4 linked regions of the Homo sapiens genome follow. The protein of the gene in region 1 purifies or fractionates together with the protein of each later gene. This does not show direct contact. Each region holds a gene or a part of one and is shown on either strand. Other genes may lie near its edges. The genes, in order: TLR10, ECEL1, MTHFR and FBXO45.

Region 1 (7,619 bases):
CCTGCAATGCCATTACTGGGTATCTATCCAAAGGATTATAAATCATTCTACTATAAAGATACATGCACACACGTGTTTATTGCAGCACTATTCACAACAGCAAAGACTTGGAACCAACCCAAATGCCCATCAATGATAGACTGGATAAAGAAAATATGGCACATATACACCATGGAATACTATGCAGCCATAAAAAAGAATGTGTTCATGTCCTTTGCAGGGACATGGATGAATCTGGAAACCATCATTCTCAGCAAACTAATACAAGAACAGAAAACCAAACACCACATGTTCTCACTCATAACTGGGAGTTGAACAATGAGAACACATTGACACACACCGGGGCCTGTCAGGGGGTGGGGGGCTAGGGGAGGAATAGCATTAGGAGAAATACCTAATGTAGATGATGGGCTGATGGGTGCAGCAAACCACCATGGCATGTGTATACCTATGTAACAAACATGCACGTTCCGCACATGTACCCCAGAACTTACAGTATAAAATAAATAAATAAATAAATAAACAAACAAACAAATAAAAAGATTCCTCTGTTTGTTGGGTGGAAATGACTGGGAGCCACAAGGCTGGCAGGGAAGACTCCTTGGGACACTATAGCGTAACTTGTGCCAGAGAGAATGTATCAATGGAAGTGGAGAGAAGTGGTTAGATTCTAATTTCAAATTAGTAAACAATTTAACTCTACGTGTCCCCACACCAGGCTCTCTGAAGGCACCAAGAGCAGGTGATAAGTTAGTGGGGGAGTTTTTCTGCTTCCATTTGTATGTATCTGTTACACATTGACCCTCAACCTCCCTCAGACAGGTCACTCCCATAGACAAGCAGAGGGAGCAAAAGATATGCTCAACAGAAAGAGGATGGGTTAGAGAGAATTCTCTGTGCGTGTCATGTTCCCATCATTCTGAAAGCCTGGATGGGAGGTGAGGGAGGCAGTGGGCACGCCCATCCACAGGAATGCACACAAACATGGCAGGGTAACAAAGGTGGGGCAGAATCAAAACATAAGGCCACTTAGAATGTTACCTCTCTCTCATCTGTATTTCTCTTTCTCTAGAACCTTCCCAAGTCTGGTTTTTTTCTTGAAGTGAAGAAATTCCAGAAAACCTATGGAGAGTAGGGAGTGAGAGGGCCACTCCCAAGTTTTCCATTAGCTGCTGATACTAGTAAAGGAGAGAGAGCATCTTATCTCTTATCTTGGGAACACATATGATCATAGTTTCTTTGTGTGAACTCCCTTACAATGTAAACTTGGAGAATTCCTTTGTAAAAATATTAATTATCCACATTGATCATATAATTTTTATATTTCATAAACTATTGTTTCTGGTAAGTGTTCTCAAATATCTTGGAGAAAAAGCAATCATTTTGGTAAGGTCACCACATTTAGATGATTTCTCAAAACACCAACTTTTAAAAACGTGGTCAAATGACTTAAGATGCCTCCGGCCGTATTTTTCTTTGCTGACATTTCAGTGACTCCCTAGAGTGTAATGTATACTAAAATATTATACTGCATTAATATGTAAATATAACACAGGATAATTATCAGAAAAAACAGGTGAATATTCTATTTAATTAACTTAGTTCCTGCTGGATTTTTGAACTGTTATATATTTAAGAGTAAGTTTTCTACATCTACTTTTAAATATTTCTAATAGAAAATCAGTTTACAACTGTGGCCTGGAAGTGTAATTACTACTCAAATTATTGTGTTCATAGTATCCAATGTATAATGATAAACTTTATATTTTCTTTCAGTTTTCTTAAAACTATACATTAAAATTCAGAATATCTTAATTTCCATGCCACTAGATGCAGAAAATAATTTTCCATGAATTCATGATCTCTTCTGAATGACCTCTTAGTAAATAAACTTTCATTCATTTGCTTGTCACCTGTCCCTTCTCTGTTCATTCCCGTGGTAGCTGTCTGTCTTGTTCACTTCTGTATCCTCAGCATGTAGCATAGTGCTTGACACATGGTGCCTGCTCATTACTGCTTGTTGAATGCACATATGAATGAATGAATCCTTGTATGTATGAATTTCAACGTTTTAATCCTTAGTACAACGTGATGCATAATATGCTCTCATAAATATGTGTTGAATGAATGAATTTATGTTGTGAATTCCTGATACAGTGCAGGGCATGATGGTTGAAGAATGAGTTTGGTAGGCCTGGCGCGGTGGCTCAGGCCTGTAATCCCAGCACTTTGGGAGGCTGAGGCAGGTGGATCACAAAGTAAGGAGATCAAGACCATCCTGGCTAACATGGTGAAACCCTGTCTCTACTAAAAAAATACAAAAAATTAGCTGAGCGTGGTGGCATGTGCCTGTAGTCCCAGCTACTCGGGAGGCTGAGGCAGGATAATCACTTGAACCCAAAAGGTGGAGGTTGCAGTGAGCTGAGATGCCACCACTGCACTCCAGCCTGGGCAACAGAGCAAGACTCAGTTTCAAAAAAAAAAAGAATAAGTTTGGTTTTAGTGATTGATGGATCTGTGTTCAAATCCAATGTTAACCATTCATCCACTCATTAGCTATGTACTCGGACCATTTATTTAATCTCTGAAAGATCTGGTTTTGTCATCTGTAAAATGGAGCTTGTGAAGAGGCATAAGACAATGTATGTAAGTCACTTAGTACCATGCCTAGCATATCACACTTAATAAATGGTGGCAGTTATCAGGTCAAGACTCGGGTGAAGCAAGGAAGGCATAAATGTTAAGGGGGTCCCAAGGAACTCAGTAATCAAGATAATGTTTACATGAAATATTTTTAAAAATGAAAATTAATGCAAAAATCTATGTTGAACAAAATATCGAAATTTTTCATAAAGACAGGATCAGTATTGCTGATTGTTTCTTTTGCCTCAGGCTCTATTATGGCTTGATAGGACCCTGGCAGTTATAATCATTAGGTTGACAAAGGTGCTTTTAATGTTATCCTCTCATAGAGTGCTTAATTTGTAGCAATTGACTTTAAGCTTCTAGGTCTTAGAGCCATGGCCCCTTAAGAATGCAGCAGAATCTAACCCAGTTGCTTTAGCTGGAACTCTGCGCTGAGAAGTCAGAGTTTCTATCTCTTACCCACTTCTTCCCCCTGCCCAATACCACAGTCTTATCTGGGACTACAATGGGAGAGGAACTCTTTTTGAACTTCTCTTAATATAACAATAGTAAAGGTCCTATCTCTCAGGCAATACTTATGCATTATGACATTTTATAAAAACAACTTTTACATAGAGACAGGGTCTCACTATGTTGCCAAGGCTGCTCTTAAACTCCTGGCCTCCAGCAATCTTCCCACCTCAGCCTCCCAAATGGGTGTGATTAGAGGTGTGAGCCACTGTGCTTGGCCTCATTAAAGCAATTTTAAAAGTAGGACATACACTTTTTTTTTTTTTTGAGATGGAGTCTCGCTCTGTTGCCCAGGCTGGAGTAAAGTGGTATGATCTCAGCTCACTGCAAGCTCCACCTCCCAGGTTCAAGCGATTCTCCTGCCGCAGCCTCCTGAGTAGCTGGGATTACAGGCACCTGCCATCACACCCGGCTAATTTTTGTATTTTTAGTAGAGATGGGGTTTCACCATGTTGGTGATGTAGTCTATAAATAGTATATATATGTTAATATCATATCCCTACTACTACGTTAAAAGCAGGTAAAAAACAGAGAATGACCTTCCTTAATACATCTTTAATATCTTATAATTTAAAAGTCCAAGTCAAAAGACATCATCAAATGACAACTAGTGTTTTACCAAAGAATATTTAATCATCTAATTTATCTTTTCCCAATGATATAAAGAAATAGAAAAGAGATTAAGAACCTATTGAATGTTGAATGATCTTTGCAACATAAGAGTAAGAATGACTTCTTTTCAGTATTTCCTACGTGTCTGACATGGAGCTAAGTGTTTTATGTCCATTACCTTGTTTAATCCCTCAATGACTCAACAAAATGGCGGCCATTATTATTCATATTTTACAGATGGAGGAGCTAAAGCCCAGAGGTAAAGTAACTTGCCCAAGATGACCAACTGAAGAAGCAGAGATTTGAACCCAGACCTGTCTGGTTCCTTCTGGATGGTAACTAAACCCAAATGCAAGGCACCTCAAACCTTGAAATGAGGTGGCTTAAGATGTAACGACATCCTAAGGACCGAATCACTGAGGTTGAATCCATTGATCTGACCAGCTGCCATGGCGGCCACTTCCTCCTTTCTCACCCCATGCCCCTGTCTATGAAGCTTCATGCAGCTGCTGTGGGACACTCTGCTAGGTGCCACAAAGTTCAAGAGACTTTGCCTACATGTATAAATATATTCTTAGGAAAGTTATAAGTTCACAAGAATTGAAATAAAACTCGAAGTGCATCCTATTCCTAATTAATAGCTCAGTGTAGGTGGTCTGGGAGAAAGCTTATCAAGAAACCAAATGCTCACAGGTTGTTAACCATCCTCTTCTTTACAGCAACCACATATGGCCCTCTTTGTCCACTTCTGAAGGAAACGGAATAAGAACTGCATTGTACAAGATCCATCAGATCTGCCCCTACTTTTAAACAGGTAACACAAATGCAGAACTTTTCAACGGGGTAAAGGAGCAACAAATATGCCTTAAATAGCCAAAGGTTTCATCCAGCAGAGGTTAACATACGCTGTGGGGAAATAAGAGCTAGAAAAAACTTGCCACAGTGCATAGGACCGTTCAATCTGAATAGAAGAGCTGACCAGGTTTGATCCGCAATCAGTGAAAAGAAACCCACGCTCTCAAGCATCTGCAAGAAATTCCTCAGATCAATAGCCCCAAGGTCACTAATCATTAATCTAGACAAAATAGTAAATACTAAAAATCTAAATAACCCTACTTCCCTCCCCTCAATATTAGCTCAAATTATCTCCTTTTTAGAAAATACCCATGCAGCCCTTATATCTTTTTAATGAGAGTTACAACAAACAAAGCTAAGGTTCTTACCCCACGGCTTGCACTCTCTCAGCAGAGCTGCAGGTGCGTGGATGATTCGTTGACACGGTCAGAATTGGCTGCAGGAGGGAATTGAATCGAGGTTTTCTGTAAAGCTTAAACCCCATCCGCCCTCTTCTGCATGCTACTGGTATTGCATGTTATATATATTCATTATAATCTTAGCACTTTTTTAAATTGTGGTCAAATACACATAACATAGGAGTTATCATGCTCACCATCTTTCTATTTTTATTTTTATTTTTATTTTTTTTGAGGTAGGGTCTCACTTTGTCACCCAGGCTGGAGTGCAGTGGTGTGATCACTGCTCACTGCAGCCTTGACCTCTTGCGCTAAAGCCCGCAAGAGGCTGGGCTTCTCAGTCCCGCAAATGTCTGGGACTACAGGCGCTCACCAACTGGCCTGGCTAAGTTTTTTGTATTTTTTGTAGAGACGGGGTTTCGCCAGTTGCCCAGGCTGGTCTTGAACTCCTGAGCTCAAGTGATCTGCCTGTCTCGGCCTCCCAAAGTGCTAGGATTACGGTGTGAGCCACCGCGCCTGACCTTAAGCATTTTTAAATGTACAATTTAGTGGCATTAATTAAGTACATTCACACTGTTGTGCAACCACCACCACTGCCCATCTCCAAAGATTTTTCGTCATCCCAAACTGAAATTCTATGCCATTAAAAAATAATTTCCCATTTTCCCCTTCCCTCAGACCCTGGAAACTATAATTCTACTTTCTGTCTGTGTGAATTTGACTACTCTAGGTACCTCATGTCCGTGGAGTTATACCATATTTGGTTTTTTGTGACTGGCTTATTTCATTGAGCATAATGTCTTTAAGGTTCATCCATATCATTTCTATTATTATTACATAGAATAATAGAATCTTTCCTTCCTTTTTTAAGGCTGAATACTATTTTGTTGTATGTACGTCCCACATTTTGTTCATTCATTCATCCATCAATGGACATTTGGGTAGTTTTCACCTTTTGGCTCTTGTGAATAATGCTGCTGTGAACGTGGTGCACAAATATCTATTTAAGTTGGTACTTAACATTCTTTTGAGTCTATACCTAGAAGTGGAATTCACGGATCGTATGACCATTCTGTTTAATTTTTTGCAGAACTACCATACTGGTTTTCCACAGCATCTTAGAGCTCTTTGATGATGCTTTTCTTCAAGGTGCAGGTCGGTTATCCCTTTCATCAGTTGGGTGGGGCAGTCATGTGATGATGGGCAGGAGTAGGAATGGTGACTCCATAATTTCAGCAATCAGGCAGGAAGAGGGTGGAAAGGAGTTATCTAGAGCAGTGGTCCCCAACCCCTGGGCCACAGACAGGTACCAGTTCATGGCCTGTTAGGAACCGAGCCACACAGCAGGAGGTGAGTGGTGGGTAAGCAAATGAAGCTTCATCTGTATTTACAGTCGCTCCCCATCGCTTGCATTACCACCTGAGCTCCACACCCTGTCATATCAGTGGCAGCATTAGATTCTCATAGGAGCTTGGACCCTACTGTGAGCTGCATATGGGAGGGATCTAGGTTGCGTGCTCCTTATGAGAATCTAATGTCTGATGATCTGTCACTGCTTCCCATCATGTCAGATGGGACCATCTAGTTGCAGGAAAACAGGCTCAGGGCTTCCACTGATTCTACATTATGGTGAGTTGTATAATTATTTCATTATATATTACAATGTCATAATAATAGAAATAAAGTGCACAATAAATGTAATGTGCTTGAATCATCCCGAAACCATCTCTCCTCCATCTCCAAACCCGGTCTGTGGAAAAACTGTCTTCCATGAAATTGGTCCTGGTGCCAAAAAGATTGGAGACCTCTGACCTAGAGGCCTTTTCTTGAAGTGAAGTGGTAAAATAAGCATGGTATTTTTTAAAATGTAGATCGCAAAGTACGGATCAATTTTTAAAGCAACATTTTTGAGGTTTTTTTCATACTTGACTTAAGATTTAGGTGACTGCTGGAGATCACGAGTAAAGAAGAAAATTTCCAGATGGATTTGTCTACAGGAGGAATGATCAATTTAAACATGAATGATTATAATAGATTTATGTCTTATAAAATTGGGGAGTGGGTGGGTTCTTAAAATACATTTTTTAACTATCATATTGGGGTTTTTAAATTTAAAATGTAGTCCATGTATTTCCACATATATTGTAGGGGGAAATCACACAAAATATAAATAACTGTAAAAAGAAAAACAACAGCAAAACAAAACCAGCTCTGCTCCTCACCTAAACATATACAAACATGTCTATATTACACAAACGTAGGAAGACAGGAACACCCGTCAGGAACGTTGGAGAGGGGATTCCCAGCTTGTTGGATGAACTAAGCTCTAAAATCTTTTTCATTTCAGAAATTCTCAAATTACTATGATCAGCACACTCACACTGTATATTGCCCTCTCAAGGAAAAATAATCACTTGGGGTTTTTGTTGTCCAAAGACATATTCTTCCTTTCCCCAGAGACCAACATGTTTAAATACTTTATTGTCAGAAAACGGAGAAGTTTTCTTTAAGTGTTTTTACATTTGTTTACCAAAAACAAGTTGAGCCAAGTAGAGTTGTTGCTTGTGTCATCTAATCATCATCATTAAGCTTGCATTT
Region 2 (7,652 bases), on another chromosome or scaffold:
GTCTGCACCCAGGAGGCTGAGCACTCGCTCCATGAACACCCTGTATGCTGCCAGGATCTGCACCAGGGGAGGGGGCTCACCCAGGGACAGGGACAGGCCTAGCCTGGATCCACCCCTCCTGGGGCCCCAGGCCTTCCCTGCCTCCCCATCCCATGCCCCAGCACCTTCTCACTGTCCTCATCCTGAGCGAGGTACAGGGTCCTCTCTGGCAGGGTGAGCCCATCCTGGTCAATCTGGGGAGGGAGACAGGGGCCACAGGTCAGAGGCCCACACCTCAGGTTCCCTAAACAGAGGGAATTCCCACTCCAATGCCCAGAGAGCAACCAGACATCCATGAGTACAGCCACAGAAGCACGCAGACCCCAGCTCCTCTTTCCACCCAGACGAGATGGCCAAAGCCCCATCCCTGACTGTCCCAGCCTGCGGATGCCCAATCTTACCCCTGTACGTCTGCACTTTCCTTATCTGTCCGGGGCATTCGTAGGTCCCCCACTGACAGTTGGGACCCCTAGCTTTGGGGCCAGCTCCAGACCTCGCGGAGACGTCAACCCAGCCCGCCGGCGCGCCTCTCCCTCCTGGCCCTCACTGCCTGCCAGAGGGCTGGGAAATTGCGGCTCCCGCGGCTCCTCTAAACACCGCAATTACCCCAGGGAAATTACTTGCGCCCTCCTCCCGCGCTCTGCCTCTGTGCGCTCCCCTCCCCTCCCCTCTCCTGCTCGTCTCTTCCCTCCTCTCCTCTCACGCACCCGCCTCCCGCGCGCAGGGACCCCTGGGCAAGGCCACTGCGCCCCGGATCCGCGGCCGCTGGCAGGGCGCTCAGGGGGCGCACTCACGCGGATGACGTAGCGCGAGGAGTTCCTGTCGTCCAGGCTGACCGTGAGCGAGAAGAGCGCGGCGGCGCTGTACACGCCCTGCGCCTTGTACAGCAGCCGGTTGAGGTCCCATCGCGCCGCGACCCCCGGACGCTCCTCCGCGCCGCCCAGGTCCCAGCCCCCGCAGTCCTCGATGACCTCTAGCATGGGTCGCGGGCCCAGTCGCTCGATCTCGCGCATGTCGAGGCACGAGCGGAAGAAGGCGCGCACCTTGCGCTGGGCCGCGCCGCCAGGCCCACCCCCGGGCCGCGCCAGCAGGCGCCGTAGGCGCTCCTCGTTTTGCTCGCCGATGGCCGCGATGGTGCCATAGGTGAGCTTGTCGTCGGGGATGGCGTGGCGCCGCAGCCAACCGCCGCAGGCGAACGAGTAGAAGTCCTGGCATGGGTCGATGCTGGCGTCCAGGTTGGCGGCCAGGAAGCGAGCGGCGCGCGCGAAGGCCTTGCGCTCAGGGCAGCCCTCGGGACAGGCGCCGCCGCCGGCCGCGACCGGGCCCAGGTACTTGAGGGCCAGCATAGCCGCCAGAATGGCGCAGAGGCCGGCGGCGAACACCAGCCCCGACAGCAGGCACACCTCGCGCCGGTTCCAGCGCGGCAGCCCGGACCGGGCCCCGGTGGCGCTGCGCGCAGCGCCCAACGGGAAGCCCGGGGGCAGGGAGGCCCCGCGCGCGCCCCCCGCGCCGCAGCGGCTCACGTACTTGACCTCTTGGAACTCATCGTAGTGCGCCGTCAGCGAATACGGGGGCTCCATGGCGCCGAGGCCGCCGCGGTGCAGACCTGGGCCACCTGGGCTACGGGATGCGCGTGGCCGCCGGCCTCCTCGTGGGCCTCCGCATGGCCCTGGGGCCGCAGCTGCGGGAAGGGCGGAAGCAGGCTCAGGAGGCGCCGCAGCCGGATGGGGCTCAGGGTCACCGCGAGGAGGGACACAGGCCTGGGTGCAGAGGCCCCAGCCGCGGGCCTCATTCACTGCGGAAACCAGGGACTATGAGGGTTCGGCGGGGCCACCACCCCCGGGTGCACAGTGGAGTCTTCCCCCCTGTCCCCTCCCTGCACACACTTGAGGGCCGCAGGGTTGGGAGGGCTCTTATTGGAAGCAAGAGGCGCCAGGCAAGGGGCCTGGCACGTAGTGGGCCTTCATTGAAAGGTCGTCCCTCTTCCCCTTCGCCTTTCTCTTCCACGACCTGCCCCAGCCAAGGCCGGGTGGAGTGGGGGAAGAAGCGGAGGCTGGAGTGAGGAGGTGCGGTCAGGGGCGCGTCTATGCGACACTTTCAGCTCTCCGCGCTGGACCCAGACAGACGCTCCGCAAAGCGGCCAAAGAACCAAACTTTGTCCTCGCGGAAGTCCGCGGGATCGACCACGCCAACCCCGCTCCCTGGCTCCTTCTGCTCGGTGGCCCGACGGCCCACTCGCCCCTTCCCTAGGGGCGCGCGCCAACGCCCCAGGGTGGCGGACACACAACCCACCCACTGGACGGCCCTGATGGAGAACCCGAGACGGGTTCCCTCCCCCCACTCCCACCATCTCTGTCCCCGCCCCGAGCCACTCCTGGCTTCAACAGGTTCTCCCCAGAACCCAAACTTGGGCGAAGTTTCACCCCCGGCGGGGAGCGAGCTGGCTGGCGACCCCCGAGCCCCGGCGCCGTGCGGCGCAGTCCGCGGAGCCCGAGAGCCGAGCCCGGGAGCCGCAGCCGCAGCCGCAGCCGGAGCCGCAGCCGAGAGGACGCAGACAAAGCCGGGAGGCTCCGCGCAGTGGCGGCGGCGGCGACGGAAGTGGCCGCGGTGGTGGCCTCAGCGGCAGGGACTCGGGCGCCACTTACCCGGCAGGTGCGCGCCCGAGCCGGCGGTGACCGAGCGGGTCGGGCCCGAGCGGGGGCCTGAGCCGCAGCGCAGCCGAGCGGGCGTCCGGTGTCTCCCAGCGCCCGCCGCCTCCTCTGCCGCCGCGCCGAGCCCGCCGCGCCGCCCGCCTGCCGGCCCGAGGGAGGGGGCGCGCCGGCGGCTCCACCCTCCTCCGCCCGCCCCGCGCGCCCCTCCTTCCTCCTGCATCTCTCGGGCCACCTGGCAGTGGGGCGGCAGCGCGGACGTGGGTCGGCGGCCGCGGAGACAGGCTCCCGGGGGTCGTGCGCGGGCTGCGGTCGGGGACTCCGGGTCCAGCCGCGTTCCGAGACGAGTGAGGGCAGCGAGTACTCCCGTGAAGGGTCCCCTCCGATCCAGTGTCCCCACTCCCAGCCGCCCACCAGCCGGCTGGAAAGGGGCTGGAGCTGGAGATGAGGAGCCGAGGACTCCTCCGAAGGGCTGGGGGCGGTGTCAGTAGTGCCTGTGTCTGCCGGCACAGTCCCTGGCGCAGAGCGCACCTTCACTAACCGGCTTTTTTGTCCTCCTTGGAACCCCTGCCCTGGATGGGCTCTCCACTAGGGCTTCTGGTTGGCCTCGCTCCCTTCACCTAGCCCCTGGTGAAGGGAGCTCAGCGGGGACTCCTGCAAGAAGAGGGCTTGCCGCCCCCTTCCCCATCCTCCCCAGCCTTGGGTGGCCCTGGCACCACGGCTCAGGGAGTCCCTGGCCCAGGTAGGAAGAAAAGGCCAAGAGAAGAATGAGCGAAGTCTCCCTGCTGGAGCCAGGGAAGGCTGGAGCCTGCCCCCTCTGGCCAGCAGCCCTAGGCCTCAGACAGGCCCTGAGCCTCAAGACCCTGGTATGTGGACTGATGGGAGGGCAGGCTGGGTGCAGGGACTCTGAATTTACTCACCGCCTGCCTTCTTCCAGGTAAACTGGCTTTTTAAATGTGGGGCCTCCCCACTGCCTGGAGGCAAAGCCCTCTTCTACCTGCCTGCCTGCCTTGGCCAGACAGCCTGGCCCTAATGGGACACAGAGAACTTGGGGCTCCTTGGAAGACTGATACTGTTTCTGGAGTCTCTGCTTTCTCTGCCCTACCCTGCCTCTGGTGTCTCTAGCAGGAGACCCCACAAAGCACCAGCCCTCCCAGGTCTGCCGGCTCCAGCCCGTAGGATTGGCTTAAACAATGTGTGAGAGCCATGGAGCACCATCTAATAAAAATCACAACAAGGTAGGGACTCTGATAACCTACCCATCATCCTGTTCTCCTCCTCAGGGTCTGTGCATCTGCCCAGCTCCTGAGCCCTGGCCCTGAGTGCCGGCCTCTGCCCCTGTCTTGCCTCTCCCTGCCTCTTCATCTCTCCATCTCTAAGCCCCCACTCCGGATACCCTGCCTCCATCTCTGGCCACCCCAGGGTTGTCCTCTGCCCCATGCATCCTTCTTGGGTCCTATTAATTCTAAAGAGGAAAAATGGAATTACTTATAATGTGGCGATTCCATGAAGGGGGGAGGGGAGGGCAGGGAGGTGGCAAAGTGGCTCTTTGTGCTTTTAATCTGCATTTTTCCCTCAATGTTCCCGTCTCCAGGAGGATAATTTTCCAGCCTTTTCAGGCCCTGATTGGTATCATTTCTCCAGCAAGGACAGCTTTTATTTTCCCCGAAATGAATGCCATGAAATTTCCAAGAAATGTAAAAATGGATATTGTCTCAGAGAGCCTCTTCCGACAGAAAGGCACAGAGGCAAACACGCTTCCCTAGGGACTCTTCTGCTCCAGTCCCGGGGGTGGGGTGGGGGGCAGCCCCCAGGCCCTCAGTCTCTCCTCCCTCCTTTTGCCCTCCCTCATCCCTTCCTCCTCCCTCCCGGGTCAGCTCTGGGACCCCCCTTCCAGCCACCCTCTCCCAGACTCAGCTGCTATTGGTCTGCTCATGGGCCTCCCGACTCCCTGCCGGGCGACCTGCCTGGCTCCACCTCACCTTTTCTTTTCACATCGCATCCCCCAGCCCCGGGCTGAGAGCAGCAACCAGGGCCTACAGGAGTTGACTTGGAATTGGGCCCTCTGACCCCTCAGTCCTGGCCACCCCACACAGACTGCCAATAAAGAGAAGTCAGAGGCCCACCTCCTTGACTCTCCGGCACCTTCTCTGTAAGGGAAGCTGGCACTGTAGGGGAGTAGGCACCAGTGGTCTGGCCTGTAGCTTGCTCACTCTTTTGGGGGATCTCTTCCTACCCCTAATTACCAAGATGACCCCATGACTCATGAGAAAGAGAATGACAGGCCACAGTGGTGCCCAGCTAAACCCAGCCAAGCCCTGAGTGAGGCAGCTGGGTGCCCAGCTTCAGGGAGCAGTTGGGTGCTGCCAGAGCTGCCTTGGAGAGAAAAGGCCCGAGGGGATGCAAGGGGGCAGAGATGAGGGGTTCAGAACCTGACTCTCTGTCTCCTCCTTGACCAAGGGTAGATCCCAGCAACTCTGCCGAACAGGGCATCACTTGGTTTGGGTTCTGGACATAGAGCCCTCCCTGAGGACAGTGTGCTGTCACCAGTAGCTTGCATCTGTTGCACGTTCACCATGTGGGCTGCTAAGTGCCCTGCTCTGAGGTGGGGCTGCCCACCTAACGCCGGGCCTGGTCCTGACTGGAGCCCATTTGTGGTCGGACCCGCCTCTCTCCTGCGGCCTGCACGTGGGTGGGGATGAACCCCTTGCCCTGCCTCGGTGTGCTGCAGCAGGGTGTCAGCTCCAGGACGAGCCCCGCCAGCCTCCACCCTGTCCAACCAGGCCCTACTCCTCCCCTGCAGATCTGTGGTATCTTCTGAGCCCTAAAAACACGCCTCCAGCCAGCTTCCTGTCCTCCACCCGGCCTCTCGGGGCTCATCCCATCTATTATTCACAGCACAAAATGGATTTTTAATTTGAGAAATGAAATGACTCTCCCAAGTGGCCGGGGTGGCAGGGAGGGGGTGGAGGAAGGCCGGAGCCGCCGTGGCCGCCACAGCCGCCACGGTGCTGACTCAGGTTCATCTTGGAAAGCTCGGGGCCCACAGCCGAACTGAGAGACCCCAAAGGCCCAGTACCCCACCACTCTGCCCCAGGCCTCCACTCCTCCCCATTGCTGTGACCAGGTGGGGTGACGGGTGCCCGTTGGTCCTGCCTGAGCCTCCAGTGGGGCCTACCTCTGGCAGGGCGGTCGGGGGGACAGCTGGATCTGTCCTCCACTGGCTTTCAGATTCCTGTGCCTCAAGGGCAGCCCTTGGGCTCCCTGGCCTGGCCTATCACCTCCCCACACCCCCCGGCCCTCCTGGCCTGGCTTCCTCCACCCTGTCCAGACCTCTGGCTGAGCTCCTTTGCTAGGTCCTGACCCCACACTAGGCCCACTCCGGCCTCGACTGCTGGCACTGGCCTCCGCTGCTGGACACCTGGCCTCCACTCCGGCCTCCACGGCAGAACCCCTCCTCACCCCTCACGGGGGAGCTCAGGCATCTTAGTGTGGCCCACAAGGCAGGGCCTCCTCCTGGCTCTTCTCTGTCTTTGTCCCTCTCTGCCTCCCCACCCCCATACCTCCCTCTTTCCTCTGGTTACTCTGATCTATTTCCATTTCCCAGAACATGGCTGGCTCTGTCATCCCTCAGGCCTTAGCACTTGCTGTTTCAGCTGCCTGGAACACCCTTCCCCCGTCCCCTCTTACGGTGGCCAATTGCCAACCATCCTTCAGGGCCACCTGGAAGTGGCCTCTCCCATCTGGTCAGGTGCTGCCTCCACAGGCCCCTACTCCACCGGATGCAAAGTCTCTCCTATGGCAGCCCCTGTTCTTCCCCTCCAGGTAGCCCGCGGCCCCTTCTGGAGCCCAGGACAGGGGACGCATATGATAAACTCAGGTGACGTCCGTGATCAGTTCATGGAGATGCCCTGCCTGAAGCATCTCTCAGCGCCAAGCCATACACCAGGCACAGCACCCAGGCAAACCTGCCCAGGCTCTCAGATCCTGAACACCTTTCCTTTGCTCTGGAACCCACCAGATGACAAAGTGGGGGCCACTTTTCCACCCTCCTGCACCCCTCCTCTCCACTCTGAACCCCGTGGTAGGCTTTGTCCTCGCCATGCATAGACTCCTCTTGGGGTCACCTCCCAACCTCTGGAGCAATGTTGTTTTTGTACAAGAAACATGTAAATATTCTCTTGTTTTAAAATATTGAAGCCACACAAGTTTGTAGAGGAGAAACATGAAAGTCCTCGTTCACGCAGCCTCAGCCCTCCCAAGGTAAGGCCAGGTAGGCTCTGCGACCACTGCAGGGGGAGCATCTAGGCCCACCTGGGTATCACTTTATTTTATCGTCTTTTTTGTTGTTGTTTTAGAGATGACGTCTCGTTGTGTTTCCCAGAGAGAGTGCAGTGGTGCAATCACACCTCCCTGCAGCCTGGATCTCCTACGCTCAAGTGATCCTCCCACCTTGGCCTCCAAAGTAGCTGGGACTACAGGTGTTCCTACCATGCCTGGCCAATTTTTTTTTATTGTGTAGAGACTGGAGTCTCGCTATGTTGCCCAGGCTTGTCTTGAACTCTGGGTGATCCGCCTACCTCGGCCTCTCAAAGTGCTGGGATTACAAGTGTGGGCCACTGTGCCCAGCCCTTACTGATTTATTTTTAATAAATAGGACACAATAGGATGGATGGTTGAGTGCCTCTCCTCCCCATGTGGCCTGTGCTAGTGTTTCCAAGCCAGAGGTCCTCGGGGTCACCCTCTGTGACTGAGGGATACTTAGGTTGTCTCACTCACCCCATCTGGTCTCCAAATCCTAAGGCCTTGGCCCAGAGTTTTGCCTCGCACTCTCCCTCTCTGCCCGCCCTGTCCCACCTTCCCTGCCTCCTGCCCTTCCTCCATCCCCTGGATGCTGTGCCCAGGTGTTTGGCTCTGGTCCCAGGTCCCACCCACACCCGCTGGCGCTGGAAACTCACTGCACTC
Region 3 (7,162 bases), on another chromosome or scaffold:
TCCCAGAGGTTATCTGCCTGGCCTGGCTCCCCACGAGTCACCTGCAAGCCCCAGGGCCTGGGGGCAGTGACTGGCAGGTGCAGATGGGCTGTTTCGTGTAGTGGAAGAGCAGCCTGATGGCCAAGGGGGTGGACGCAATTGTGGGATGTCCTCTTTACTCCCTTCCTGGCCTCACTGGCTGGGGCAGAGGGGCAGCCGCTAGGAGAGACTGAAAGCAGCAGCTAGGACTGAGGAGTGGGTTTTATTGTCCTTCAGAGCTCTTCAAGCTGTCCCCTCTGTCATCACTCCCTGGATGTGTGGGGCATGGTTCCTTCCCTGGGAAGGCTAAGTTCAGTTCTGTTTTTTATTCTATGAGAACAAGTCACAGCTGCAGCTGGGCCCCATGCTCTGCCCCAAGCCCCCAACCCCGCGGTGCTCTGGCGGCTTCCTGTCCACTCTCGGGGCCCTTGGGGCCTGGCTTGCTCCAGGGTCTTGGGCTACTGGCAGCTCCTCTCCTTGGGCTCCTGGCTGCCAGGCGTTGGTGCCACTTCTTAAAGGCCTGGAACCAGGGAGGAGAGGAAATGCTATTGTTGTGGGCTTTCTCCGGGGTCTGTGCTGTGCCTGCTAGAGCAACCCCTGTACCCAGCTCCTTTTGTCCCCAGGGCCCCTCCCTCTGCCCCAAGCAGCCAGCCAGTCTTGCCTAGGCCAAATGCACAAGCTCAGAATAGATCTGATGGTGAGCTGGGAAGCTGTACTCAGAGCAGAGCAAATGAGGGAGGGGGCGCTCAGGACCCAGGCCCTCCATGGGCTAGTGTGAGTGGCAGCCATGCCTCATGCCACACCTTCTTCGCAAACTGATGGACCGGGTGGGCCTGGCCTGAGCTGGGGCCACAAATCAAAGCAAGGGCTCCAGCATCCAGCCTGTGTGTTCTGTAATGGAACTGACCCCCTCCCCTGAAAACGAAGGGGCCCCGGGGCTGGCAAGCAGGGAAAGCTCCACGGTGCGTGGCTGTGGCACAGACTTCTGGAAGGCTGGCTGAGTGGAATGCAGGGAAGAGGGCAGTACCTGGGAAAGGACCCACCCATCTTCCTGCTGCTGTAACTGCTGAGCCACTCGCAGTCGCAGGATCCGCTGCCACCACGTCTGCCAGGCCCATCTCAGGTGCCACTCCCTGAGCTTTGGGGACAGTTGGCAGAGAAGGCCTCTTGTGCTCACGCTCCCCCGCAGTCCCCAGCCCTTCTGCCTTTCTCCCCCGACACTGCTGCACCAGAGTGAAAGGGCTATGGCAAGGGGGTGTCATCTGAGGAGTATTAAGAATGCAGATTCCTGGGCCTGTCCCCCAAGGTTTTGGAGTCAGTAGGTCCAAGGGCCATACTTTTGAGAGGGGTTTGGGTTAAGTATGAGGTGAAATGGGAGATGGTCAGTGTGGAGAGGGGTGCACCCACTCACCAGGGTCCGCACCAGCTGCTCTGCCCCTTGGGCATCCACCCAGTGCTGCCATGCCACTGCCAGGCACCTGGCCTGCTGGGAACCCCGCAGCCCGTGAAGCAGTGCCTCGAGGCACCGGCGCTGCAGGTACTTCCTCCTGATGGCCAAGAGCATCGTGACCCTTCAGGGCCAGAAGGAGGGCAGAGCCATGGGCCTGGGCCTGCTTTTCCAGGATCCTGCAGGAACGAGCACTGGCCAGAGAGGGCCCAGCTGTAGCCATGGCTCAGGCAAGCCCCTCAGCCCTTGCCCCCATCCCTCGGACCCACCAAACTGCACACACAGCTCCTCTTACCGTAGCCTCCGTTTATGGGCCTTGCTTTGGGCTTTGCAGGCTCTGGGCTCAGGGCTGGAGTGCGCTCTTGGTCCCTGGTCCCTCGTCCACAGGGGCAGGCCTGGGACCCAGCTACTCTGTCCAGGCCACTGTGGCCAGAGCTGGAAGGCAGGGCAGAGGGAATGTTCCCTGCACCCTGGAAAGGGGAGTTGAGTCACAAGAGGTTAAGGTGGGTCCAGGAAGGCAGCTGCTCTTAGTGCCCGCCTAGGAGTTGAGTACAGTGAGGAGGGTGGAGGAAGGTGCTGAGCTTAGCCTTGTGCCCTGCCCCCATCTCCCCAGGCCTCCAGCCTCTCCCGGCTGCCTGCCGCCCAAAGAGAAATCACAGGGGCGGGGCAGGAATGCAAAGTGTTTTCTCAGAACAGCTGAAACATTCCGAAGAGGGAATGGATGGGGAGAATGGTCAATACACATAAGACCGTGTCCCAAGGAGCTGATTTCCAGGCCCCTGAGGACTGGAGACCGCTTCACCCCTGCACTTCAGACACCGTTTGTCCCCCGGGGCAAGGTCTCCTTACTCTGAGCCCAGGCCGTTCCCCTTGGCTTCCTCCGTCCACCCAGGCTGCACTGCAGTGATGGCGCGGGAGGCACCAGCTCTGTGGCCTGTGTCCAGCAGCTGCGGGTCTGAAGGAATAGCCAGAGAGGAGCACCTGAACCCCATGGGCTTGGACTTCCTGGGGCCCCGCTGGGATTTCTTCGCTGCTCTAGCTGGCAGGACACATCCCGGCCTCTTCCACCCATTCCCCCATGTGGCTGAAGACATTCCAACAATGGGGTGGGCCCATAATAGTTAGCCCTCAGTCAGTTCCCGGAGCACAGCCCTGGGAGGGGGCTATTTCTCTCCCCACTGAAAACATTTCAAAGCTGAGTTACTTGTCTGAGGCCTCATCCCTCGGAAGCCGTCTGACTCCAGAGTCTGAGCCCCCGGCTAGTACCCTATAGAGAGGGGGCTCTCCAAAGGGGCTGCTGGGGCATGTGTGCCTGTGGCAGAAAAGAGGAGACCCTGGAATTCAGCACCCTGGGTGCCATTCCCAGCGTTTAGTTTCTAGAGGCCTCAGTTTCTCCATCAGCTTATGGGATCCTTGTCTTTACTGACAAGAATGGAATAGAAATGTAAAAGTACTCTGAAAAGCAATTGCCCTGTAACTTATCTAGAAAGAAAAGACCCTGAGACTCCAGAATCTGCTGTTGCCATAGCCCCATATGTGTGAATTCTGCAACTAGCCAAGGCTAGTTCCTTTCAATTCCATTTAAAAAACAAAAACCAGCAGGTGTGGTGGCTCATGGCGTAATGGGCCTGCCCAATGCTTTGGGAGGCCAAGGCAGGTAGATCGCTTGAGCCCAGGAGTTTGAGACAAGCCCTGGCAACATAGTGAGATCCCATTTCTACAAAAAAAAAAAAAAAAAAATTAGCCGGGTGTGGTGGCACACGCCTGTAGTCTCAGCTACTCAGGTGGCTGAGGTGGGAGGATCGTTTGAGCCCTGGAGGTTGAGGCTGCAGTGAGCTGTGATCGCACCACTGCACTCTGGCCTGGGCGACAGAGTGAGACACTGTCTGAGAACAAAAAACGACTGAAAAAAAAAATCACCTTAGCTTTTTCTCTTAGAATCTTCTCTAAAACGTATTCTTTGTGGCATTCTGAAATAGGATTCATGATGATGCCTGTTGATCTTAGGGACACTACCTCACCTGCCAGTATCTTTGGGGCTGTGTCCTTCAAGGACATGTCCCCAGACTGCTGTGCAGTGTCATTTTTTGTGTTTGGTTTGGTGGTGGCTTCTTCCCCCTTGCTAGGCTATCAACCTCTTATCACCACTTGTTGGTGTCAGAACTAACTGCTTCTGGTCTGGAGAGGGACTGACCGATGCCTTTGGGTAGAGAGAATTATGAAAGAAATTTTGGTATTTTTCTACTTTATATTTTCTGAGGTTTCTGTAATAAGCATATTTCACTTTTCCAATAAGAAAAAAAAAAACTTGGCCTGGCGCGGTGGCTCACACCTGTAATCCCAGCACTTTGGGAAGTCGAGGTGGGAGGATCACTTGAGTTCAGGAGTTCGAGACCAGCTTGGGCAATATGGTGAAACCCCGTCTCTACTAAAAATACAAAAATTAGCCAGGCGTGGTGGCGTGCACTTGTAGTCCCAGCTACTCAGGAAGCTGAGGCGGGAGAATCACTTGAACCCGGGAGGCAGAGGTTGCAGTGAGCTGAGATCACTCCTCTGCTTCAGCCTGGGCAATTGAGCCAGACTCTGTCTCAAAAATAAACAAAAAAACTTGACAAAAAAATGCTACTGTCCTCGTGTACCTATTCTGATCCTCAACTGCACCGTGAGAAAGCATGCATTTCAATGTCTCCCTAACAGGCTGTGACCCAACATGCTGGTCTTTGCGGCCGGACCTGCAGTGGCCTGGCACTCGAGAGGTGCCAGGTTCATCTTTGCTGATGGATTCAGAGTTGCTTGTCAGAGGCTGACTGAGAACTGGGGAGAGGTGGTGCATACGAGGTTGCTGGGCCCCTGGGGAGGCATCCAGCCATGCTGCCACCACCGGCTGAATCAAGCTGATTCTAAGGCCGGTGGTCCGAGGGTCATTTTTGGACCTCCCGCCCTGCCTAGGCTCCCTTCACCTGTTTCCAAGGGGCTGGGGCGTCCAGCAGCAGGCTCCCCCTGCTGGCCATCCGGGGCCAGAGCGTGAGGTCAGTCTGGGGCTTGGGGCGTACCTTGCCGGCCCCTGGCAGTCCCAGCCGCACCCTGAGCTGCACTGTCCGCAGGAAGCGCCTGAGCTCAGCCGGCCGGAGCTGGGTGAGGATGGCTCGCTGGACACCGCCGCGCACCGCCGACTGCACCGAGGCCTCTAGGACCCTGCGGGAGAGGAAGGAGTCTGCAGCCAGGGCCATAAAGGCCAGGACTCTCTGCAGGGAGCCCCCCCAGTGCCCTGCGGGAGGGGGCCTTCCGGGCCCAGCCCCAGGCTGGGGCCCACCCACCTCCCACACTCCCTTTTCTGGAGGGAGAATCTGGGTAAACAGGATGGAGAGCGACCTGGAAGGAGAAAATCACAGACGGGGACAAGCATCCTGTTTAGGGGCAGAGAGGGGACAGTCCTGCCAGTGCCACTTTGCCTCCCCTTCCCTGGCAAGAGCGCGTTTATGGCGCTTGCTGAGTGGCTGGCTGTGCTGGTGACTGCAAGGCATGACCATTAGAGACTTCCCCAAGGAGGGGACACACAGCAAGAGGCGGTGTCAGGATGTGGCCCAGGACTAGATGGCCAGGGCGGCCTCTCCCTGTCACCCCCAACCACCCTCTTGAGCCTTTGCCCTGCCACCCAGCCATGAATTACGCTCTACCCCTGCCAAAAACAGGCTTGAGGCCTGAGCTGGAAGCACAGAGTGGGGCTGCACTTAGACCACAGCACTCACCAGGCTCGCGGCTTCCAGGAAGCATGGGCTCGGCTGACCTGGCCCCGACAGGACTCATGCACCCACAGAGCCCAGCACCAAGTCCAGCACTGGGCTGCCTGGGCCCCAGCGCTCTCTCCTGCCTGCTGCTGGGCCTCATGGTGCATGCCCGGGGCCACTGGCCATGCTGGGAAGGCCTGTGGGGCCCGGGCCTTCTTCTGCTGCCCATCTTCCTGGCCTTGCTGCCCGCAGCTTCTCCAGCGGGCAAGGGAGGCCTGGGCCACACGCTGCTCCTGTGCCCCGGCTGCCACTTCCTGGGCTTCCCGCCATGTGGCAAACACGGCCCCCAGTGCTCTTCTCCTCAGGCCATCCTGAAAGGCTTGATGCTGGGCCCGGAGCACCCCCGTGTCTCTTACAACCTCACACCAGGCCTGGAAGTAGCTGCAAAACAGACACATTGGGCCAGGTGTGGTGGCTCATGCTTGTAATCCCAGCACTTTGGGAAGCCAAGGTGAGTGGATCACCTGAAGTCAGTTTGAGACCAGCCTGACCAACGTGGTGAAACCCCGTCTCTATTAAAAATACAAAAATTAGCCAGGCCTGGTAGTGGGCACCTGTAATCCCAGCTACTTGGGAGTCTGAGGCAGAAGAATTGCCTGAACCCAGGAGGCAGAGGTTGCAGTAAGCCGAGATCGCGCAAGTGCACTCCAGCCTGGGTGACAAGAGTGAAACTCCATCTCAAAAAAACAAAATGAAACAAAACAAAAACAGATGCATGGGAGGGCTTGTCTCGTTCTCAGAGTCAAAAGTCACATTTATTCAAAGTTACACCTGCAAATCTCCCACAAAACAGTAAACGACCAGTAACAGGTGAAAGCACTGGCTTTCCATCTTGCAACCTCAGCCTCAGAGGGCAGGGGCTGCCCTGCGAGGGGGATGGGAACCAGCAGTATGGGTTCAAGTCCCACATCAGCCATGCCCTGCCTCCCATCACATGCCCAGGTGGTTGGTGAGGGAGAGGAACACCATCTCTCACTCAGTGAGAAGCCAAGAAAAAAAACCATCTACGGCCAGGCACAGTGGCTCACACCTGTAATCCCAGCATTTTGGGAGGCAGAGGCGGGCGGATCACCTGAGGTCGGGAGTTCGAGACCAGCCTGACCAACATGGAGAAACCCCGTCTCTACTAAAAATACAAAATTAGCCAGGTGTGGTGCCACATGCCTGTAATCCCAGCTACTCGGGAGGCTGAGGCAGGAGAATCACTTGAACCCGGGAGGCGGAGGTTGTGGTAAGCCGAGATCGCGCCATTGCACTCCAACCTGGGCAACAAGAGCGAAACTCTGTCTCAAAAAACAAACAAACAAACAAAATAACCATCTACACCCTCAGATGCAAAAGCACAGACGTCAGCCATTCTGTAGCCAACAGTTCACTGCCCCACGGGGACACTGAACATTCGCAAATTTGTACTGAACTGTGGGAGGAGCCATTCTGTGTCCTCTGCTTGGTTTTACAATATGCATTCATGAACTGTATACATGTTCCACCAGAACATCTTTACTTAAATGAAGATTTCACTCTCTTCTCTTAGCGACAGTGTACAGCAGAATTCTCCTTGCTGTAACTCCTCACAATGGGCGTTATGGTAGATTTCCGAGGAGTGGATTTCTCCTCCTTTTTTTTTTTTTTTTTTGAGATGGAGTCTCGCACTGTCGCCCAGGCTGGAGTGCAGTGGTGCAATCTCGGCTCACTGCAACCTCCGCCTCCCGGATTCAAGTGATTCTCCTGCCTGAGCCCAAGTAGCTGGGACTACAGGCACCTGCCACCATGCCCGTCTAATTTTTCATATTTTTAGTAGAGATGGGGTTTCACCATGTTGGCCAGGCTGGTCTCGAACTCCTGATCTCAAGTGATCCACCTTCCTCGGCCTCCCAAAGTGCTGGGATTATAGGTATGATCCACTGTT
Region 4 (6,920 bases), on another chromosome or scaffold:
ACGTGGTGAAACCCCGTCTCTACTAAAAATACAAAAATTAGCTGGGTGTGGTGGCGCATGCCTGTAATCCCAGCTACCCAAGAGGCTGAGGTAGGAGAACTGCTTGAACCGGGACCCGGGAGGCAGAGGTTGCGGTGAGCTGAGATCATGCCATTGCACTCCAGCATGGGCAACAAGAGTGAAACTCTGTCTCAAAAGGAGAAAAAAAAAAAAAAGAAACCCCTTCTCTACTAAAAAAATATAAAATTAAATTAGCCGGGCGTGGTTTAGAGGCGCATGCCTCTAATCCCAGCTACTCGGGAGGCTGAGGCAGGAGAATCACTTGAACCTGGGAGGTGGAGGTTGCGGTGAGCCGAGATTGCGCCATTGCACTTCCAGCCTGGGCAACAAGAGTAAAACTCCGTCTCAAAAAAAAAAAGTCAGAGACAGAGACTGGGTTAGATAAAAATCAAGATCCAACTATGTGCTGTGTAGGAGCTCCACTTTAAATACAAAGACAGATTGACAGAGGATTACTAGAGTCAAAGGAAGTCATTTCATAATAAAAGAATAAATCAGGCAGGGAGATAAAACAATTAGAAATGTATATGCACCAGTAGTAACAGAGCTCCAAAATACATGAAGCAAACACTGAGAGAACTAAAAGAAGAAAGACAAATTAGCAAGGATAGATGGAGATTTCAATACTCCTCTTAGTAAATAATAGAAGGGTAGAAAAAAATCAGTAACACTATGTAAGACTTGAACATTATCAATCGACTTTGCCTAATTCTCATTTACAGAATATTCCATTCAGCAAAAGAATATACATTTTTTCAAGCACACATGGGACACTCATCCAGACAGACCACATATTAGAATAAAACAAATCTCAATAAATTTAAAAGGACTAAAACCATAGAGCATGTTCTCTGAAAAACAGACTTAAGGACTTTCACTTACAAAATCATTACAAGGGTGGCGACAGGACTTCGTTTTTAGTGATAAAGTCTACACACCCTTCTCCTTATAGTATCCGCAGAGCCTAAAAGGATAGTGAGGAAACATTCCATGAAAAAAATCCTTCCAGCTTTTATACCTCAGAAAATGGGATGTATTTTTGGTTCTTCTGCTTTAGTATGCCTGACTTGAGGTCATTACTGAGGCTGGAACTTTCACGCCACAGGTGGCTCTGAAATATGCAATCTATAGTTCTTTAAAGACTTCCAATTTCTTATCAGATTATTGTATATTACACCCTGTTAAGTCTGTAGTAATAAATACGGCTTTTACAAATAGGAACTATAATTTTAACTTGAGTCAAATGAGTATGCCTTAAGCCTAAGATGAAAAGAATAAAAAATACAGCAGTTTGCCTGAATTTGCCTGTCTCTGCAGAACTCACTGATGCCTCCAGGGGCTTTGAATCCACAAACATGTGCATGCACAGAGCTGTATTTACTGGGGTAAGGAGCCTAGAAAAAGATTTGGATGTGCCGTGATACAGGAAAGATGACCATCTAGAGCAGGGGTATTCAATCCTTTGGCTTCCCTGGGCCACACTGGAAGAATTGTTTTGGGCCACACATAAAATACACTAACACTAAAGATAGCTAATCAGCTTTAAAAAAAAAAATTGCAAAAAAATCTCATAATGTTTTAAGAAAGTTTATGAATTTGCATTGGGTCACAATCAAAGCCATCTTGGGCTGCATGCAGGCTGTGGGTTGGACAAGCTTGATATAGAGCATGAACTGGCAAACTACAGCCCCTGGACCAAATCTGTCCTGCAGCCCATAAATAAGGTCTATGGAATACAGCCATGTTCGTTCATTTACGTATTATCGATGACTGCTTTTGTACTATAAATAGAGTTGAAACTCGTGATAGATCCTTACCTTGAAAATGACATTAAAAAAAAAAAGTTGTGACAGAGACCATATGGACTGCAAAGACTTAAAGATTTACTACGTGGCCCTTACAAAAAGTTTGCCAACCCCTGATCTGGAGCAAAAATAGGCTGCTTAAAGTTGTATTAGGAAACAAATATTGAGATAGATCATTTATACATTTATTTAAAAATGGTCAAAAAATCTCCTTGAGGCTGGGCATGGTGGCTCACGCCTGTAATCCCAGCACTTTGGGAGGCCAAGGCAGGTGAATCACGAGGTTAGGAGTTCAAGACCAGCCTGGCCAAGATGGTGAAACCCTGTCTCTACTAAAAATACAAAAATTAGCCAGGCATGGTGGTGGGCGCCTGTAATCCCAACTACTGAGGCTGAGGCAGAGAATTGCTTGAACCTGGGAGGTGCAGGTTGCAGTGAGCCGAGTTGGCGCCACTGCACTCTAGCCTGGGCAACGGAGTGAGATTCTGTCTAAAAAAAAAAAAAGAATATTTTTCTGCATAGCCAAAATCAAAATATAACACCCAACAAAATTAACTATAACCCCCTAACATTAAAAAAAAAAAATCTCCTTGAAGTCTGGGTATCTGAAAAAATAAAAAAATAATAAAAATAAAAATTACCAAAAAGACAAAAACTGCTATATAAAAATTTGTAAATTTAAAACAAATTAAGGCGTGATTTGACAAAGGCCCATACTTGAGAAAAACCCCAGTTTCTCACCTGATATTTTGGTGCGTTGTTGCACTGTGGAAAACTGCCATTGACTTCTCCATTATGTAGTAGATTATTGTCCACCAGATTCCAGCCCCAGCTCTGGTCATCACTGCCCAGCAATGCCACATAACCTTGGCACTGCATGGGGGCCCGTTTTGTGGCAATTCCAATCACTGCCACAGTGCCCAGAGGGCCCTCCCACCACACTTCCCATGCATGGCGGCCCTCACTGAAACCAATCTTGGTCCTTGCACCATCAGTGCTCTGAGCAATGGGGTTTCGATGTAAAGTAAAGCCATTCTTCTTAATGTAGACATTCCTGGAGCAGTCATTAGTGCTGAAGGCATGTTGAAAAGCACGTATCTAAAAAGATGAAAAACAGACCAAATAAATAACAATTTTATTTTTCTTAAATATTAAAAATTACCCAAACTTCACGCTGTATGTTTTTAAATAACGAAGTTATATATTTTAAAATAACACAAGTATTTCCAAATAATGGCTGAAGTTTCAGGATGGAATACTAACAGAATAAATAACATTAAAAAATAAATGCCAACCGTTTCATCACTGACCAAAATTTTAAATTGTAGTATTTCCTCAAACAGACTTCTTAAAACATCAAAAGATACAAAAAAGAAAAATCCTTATATCTTACAGATAATACTGAAACGTTTATGGATAAAATAATGGTATCTGGGAATTGCTTTGAAATATCCAGAGATGGAGTGGGAGAGTGTGCAATAGAAACATGAAACTAGACTGGCCATAAATTAATCATTGGCAAAGCTTGGTGATGGGTATAAGGAAGTTCATCAAACTATTTTCTCTACTTTTGTTTATATTTGATATTTTTATACCAAAAAGTTGAGATGTACAGTTTTCATATGGGCAATGCTGTCATCAAAAAGAATTATATTTTACATAAAACAGAAACTTTAATCCTAGCAGCTCTAAAGTTTATGAAAAATTTTAGTAAACACAAACTACCTTAGATCCTCAGCCTACTTGCTGGATATGACTTACACAATAAAAAAATCACCAATCTCATTTTACCAAATCAAATAATCCCTTAGATAGCATCTAGGTTCAACTACTAGAATTTATGAAGAGAAGCTATCAATAAGACAAGTTAGTTGACTCTTCAGTAAATACAAAGGTTTACACTTCCAAAATAAAGAGGGTATGAAAATAGCTCTTCTATACAAACAATAACAATTTCTCATAAACAATTTTAAACTTTTAGTTTGTGTATTTTAAATTTTTTTTAGACAACGTCTCACTCTGTCACCCAGACTGCAGTGCAGTGGCACAATCGTAGCGCACTGCAGCCTTGAACTCCTTGGCTCAAGTGATACTCCCATCTCAGTCTTCCGAGTAGCTGGGGTTACAGGTTCGAGTCACTACGCCTGCCTGGCTAGTATGTTTTTAAAAAATCCCTTCTCTACTTTAGTCAAACTACCCAAAGCAGTGGAAGGCTGGGACCTATGCTTCAGCTAACCTGAGAAAAATCAACTCCAGAGGCATAGAATGTCAGCATTTAGGAAGACCCTTAAAGGTCACCTAGTCCTTCTCAGGGATTTCAACCGCGAGTTAGTGCAAGAGGCCCAAAGAGAGATCAAGGATCCAGTCCCCTCACCACCTGTTCGTTTACCATTCGCTGGCACTCTACCGTTTCAGTGAGCTGCAGAGCGCAGATTTAAAAACAGAGAACTATTTGTTTCCAGTATCCCATGCATTCACAATAAAACTGAGGCATTCCCAATGTTTTTCCTATCTGCTCGTATTATAAAATACTTTAAGGCACTTATAAGACCAAAACGTAAGATTCAATGAAGGGGCCGGGCGCGGTGGCTCACCCCTGCAATCCCAGCACTTTGGGAAGGCAAGGTGGGCAAATCGCCTGAACTCGGAGTTCAAGACTAGCCTGGGCAACATGGCGAAACCCCAACTCTAGTAAAAATACAAAAAATTAGCTGGGCGTGGCAGTGCACGCTTGTAATCCCAGCTACTTGGGAGGCTGAGGCAGAAGGAATGCTTGAGCCCAGGAGGCAGAGGATGCAGTGAGCCAAAATCACACCACTGCACTCCAGCCTGGGTGACAAAGTGAGACCCTGTCTCAAAAAAAAAAAAAGAAACAAAGAAAAGAAAGGAAAAGAAGATTAAATGGGGAAGGAACATGTCCCCAAAATAGCAAATACTGTCTAAATAACTCAAGAGAATAATATCAATAATTCACTATAAAATATTTAATTAATATTTCCCTATGCCTACTCCCCAATTCTTATAAATTCCAATTTCACATTGACACTATTGACAACCTCTTCCTTAAACTTCCTTTTCTTTTTTTTTTTTTTTGAGACAGAGTCTCACTCTGTCACCCAAGCTGGAGTGCAGTGGCTCAATCTCAGCTCACTGCAACCTCTGCCTCCTGGGTTCAAGCGATTCTCCTGTCTCAGCCTCCCCCGAGTAGCTGGGATTACAGACGTGCACCACCACACCCGGCTAATTTTTGAATTTTGAATAGAGACAGGGTTTCACCATGTTGGCCAGGCTGGTCTCAAACTCCTGACCTCAGGTGATCCGCCTGCCTTGGCCTCCGCAAGTGCTGGGATTACAGGCGTGAGCCACCACGCCCGGCCCTCTCTTCCTCAAACTTCTATGACATCTTCCTATTTCCCTGAACTGATCCTGTATCATTTCCTTTTTTGGTGACCACCCTTCCTCTGCCCCAACCAAATTCTCCAAACTCAGTCCTCAACTCTCTATCTGAATTATTTCCAAACCTGTCTTTCTAAAACAGCACCTTTACTACATATCTCATCCCAGTTCTATAACCTCTGGTAGTTCCATACTTAGTAGCATCACCAACTGCAAATTCTTCTGCCTGGCTTTCACAGCCCTCCAAATCTGATTCTTCCTATTTCCCTTTCTACCTTGATGATGTTCTTCTTGCTGAAAGTATTATATGTGCTTTCTTCTCCCACACATTCTCTAAGATCACCTCTATTAAGCTATTCTTAACCAGGGCCACCCAATTCCCTTGATGTCTCTCTCTGCCGGGTGCTTGCCCACCACTTTCTGTGCCACGTAACAATTTAGCAGCTCTTATTTTCTAACACACTTTTAACCACTGAGTCTAGTACAAAATAACTTGCAAAAAAAATCTAATCTAATCTAAATTGATCACACCTCAGTAGGAAATAGAGGACAGAAGAACATGTCAAGCAACACGATGATAATGAAATCCGCAAAATCGAGCTGAGAGTAAACCACCTTGTTTCCTCAACAAATAAGGTGGGAGGTTGGGGAGATGGTGAGTGAATATGTAGACTAAAATAGCCTTAAGAGACATATCAACCTTTGCCATGGGACCCTTATATAGATCTTGATTATATAAAATATAACTTTAAAATGCAACATTTAACATTTATGAGACAACTGGCAATTTGAACACTGCATTTTTGATATTAAGGAATTAATGTACATTTATATTTAGATGTGATAACCATATTGTGATTACATTAAGTGTCTTTACTTTTTAGAAACAGATACTGGAAACTTCATATGAAATGGGAAAATAGGCCGGGCATGGTGGCTCACACCTATAATCCCAGCACTTCAGGAGGCCGAGGCAGGCGGATCACGAGGTCAAGAAATCGAGACCGTCCTGGCCAACATGGTGAAAGCCTGTCTCTACTAAAAATACAAAAATTAGCTGGACGTAGTGGCAGGCTCCTGTAATCCAAGCTACTTGGGAGGCTGAGGCAGAATCACTTGAACCCAGGAAGCAGAGGTTGCAGTGAGCTGAAATTGTGCCACTGCGCTCCAGCCTGGGCAACAGAGCAAGACTCTGTCTCAAAAAAAAAAAAAAAAAGGAAAATAAAGACCAAATTAATAAATTAAAAACAACCCATAGCCTCACATTCCCATGCACAACCTGAATTTTGTTATGGCAAAAGCAGCATGAAGACCTAGCTTAAAATCTAAGTCTGAACTTTAGAGAATTCTCATCAGATGCCAAGTATGACTTAAATAATTAATGCTACGGGGTGATATGTAAAATATGAACTTAAAAAAAAAACAACTGAACAGATTAATAAACTCCACTTTCCTGTTCTATGCTATCCCTAAACCTTTTCCTATCATTCTCTGTTATCCAGGCTCCTGGGAAAATCCATTTGACACATCCATCTTCCTCATCCCATTCACCCAGTCAGCTGTCTACCTATGTATATTGTTTTCTACGACAGCTCTCCAGCCATCCCCTTCTCTCCTCGATGTACCTGTTCCAGTCTTAAGTATCTCTGGTATAGGCAC

What was found.
Region 2: the proteins of TLR10 (region 1) and ECEL1 purify together in Homo sapiens (affinity purification with mass spectrometry; one large-scale study listed by BioGRID and IntAct). This does not show direct contact.
Region 3: the proteins of TLR10 (region 1) and MTHFR purify together in Homo sapiens (affinity purification with mass spectrometry; one large-scale study listed by BioGRID and IntAct). This does not show direct contact.
Region 4: the proteins of TLR10 (region 1) and FBXO45 purify together in Homo sapiens (affinity purification with mass spectrometry; one large-scale study listed by BioGRID and IntAct). This does not show direct contact.

What each region holds. Positions count from the first base shown.
Region 1 is NC_000004.12:38,777,930-38,785,548, forward strand, and holds the start of TLR10 (toll-like receptor 10 isoform a precursor), read right to left. Parts: upstream 5,062-7,619; 5' UTR 4,992-5,061; exon of another isoform or gene 1-4,991.
Region 2 is NC_000002.12:232,485,035-232,492,686, forward strand, and holds the start of ECEL1 (endothelin-converting enzyme-like 1), read right to left. Parts: upstream 2,801-7,652; 5' UTR 2,685-2,800; intron 1,721-2,684; 5' UTR 1,620-1,720; coding exon 834-1,619; intron 234-833; coding exon 165-233; intron 58-164; coding exon 1-57. UniProt on the Homo sapiens protein: May contribute to the degradation of peptide hormones and be involved in the inactivation of neuronal peptides.
Region 3 is NC_000001.11:11,782,646-11,789,807, reverse strand, and holds the end of MTHFR (methylenetetrahydrofolate reductase (NADPH)), read left to right. Parts: 3' UTR 1-348; coding exon of another isoform or gene 349-538; 3' UTR 539-764; coding exon of another isoform or gene 765-1,156; 3' UTR 1,157-1,429; coding exon of another isoform or gene 1,430-1,659; 3' UTR 1,660-1,760; coding exon of another isoform or gene 1,761-1,935; 3' UTR 1,936-2,314; coding exon of another isoform or gene 2,315-2,420; 3' UTR 2,421-4,085; downstream 4,086-7,162. Other genes in the region: uncharacterized protein C1orf167, read right to left, coding at 765-1,156, 1,430-1,659, 1,761-1,935, 2,315-2,420, 4,519-4,660, 5,215-5,634. UniProt on the Homo sapiens protein: Catalyzes the conversion of 5,10-methylenetetrahydrofolate to 5-methyltetrahydrofolate, a cosubstrate for homocysteine remethylation to methionine. Represents a key regulatory connection between the folate and methionine cycles.
Region 4 is NC_000003.12:196,573,496-196,580,415, reverse strand, and holds part of FBXO45 (F-box/SPRY domain-containing protein 1), read right to left. Parts: intron 2,964-6,920; coding exon 2,607-2,963; intron 1-2,606. UniProt on the Homo sapiens protein: Component of E3 ubiquitin ligase complex consisting of FBXO45, MYCBP2 and SKP1. Functions in substrate recognition but also plays an important role in assembly of the complex.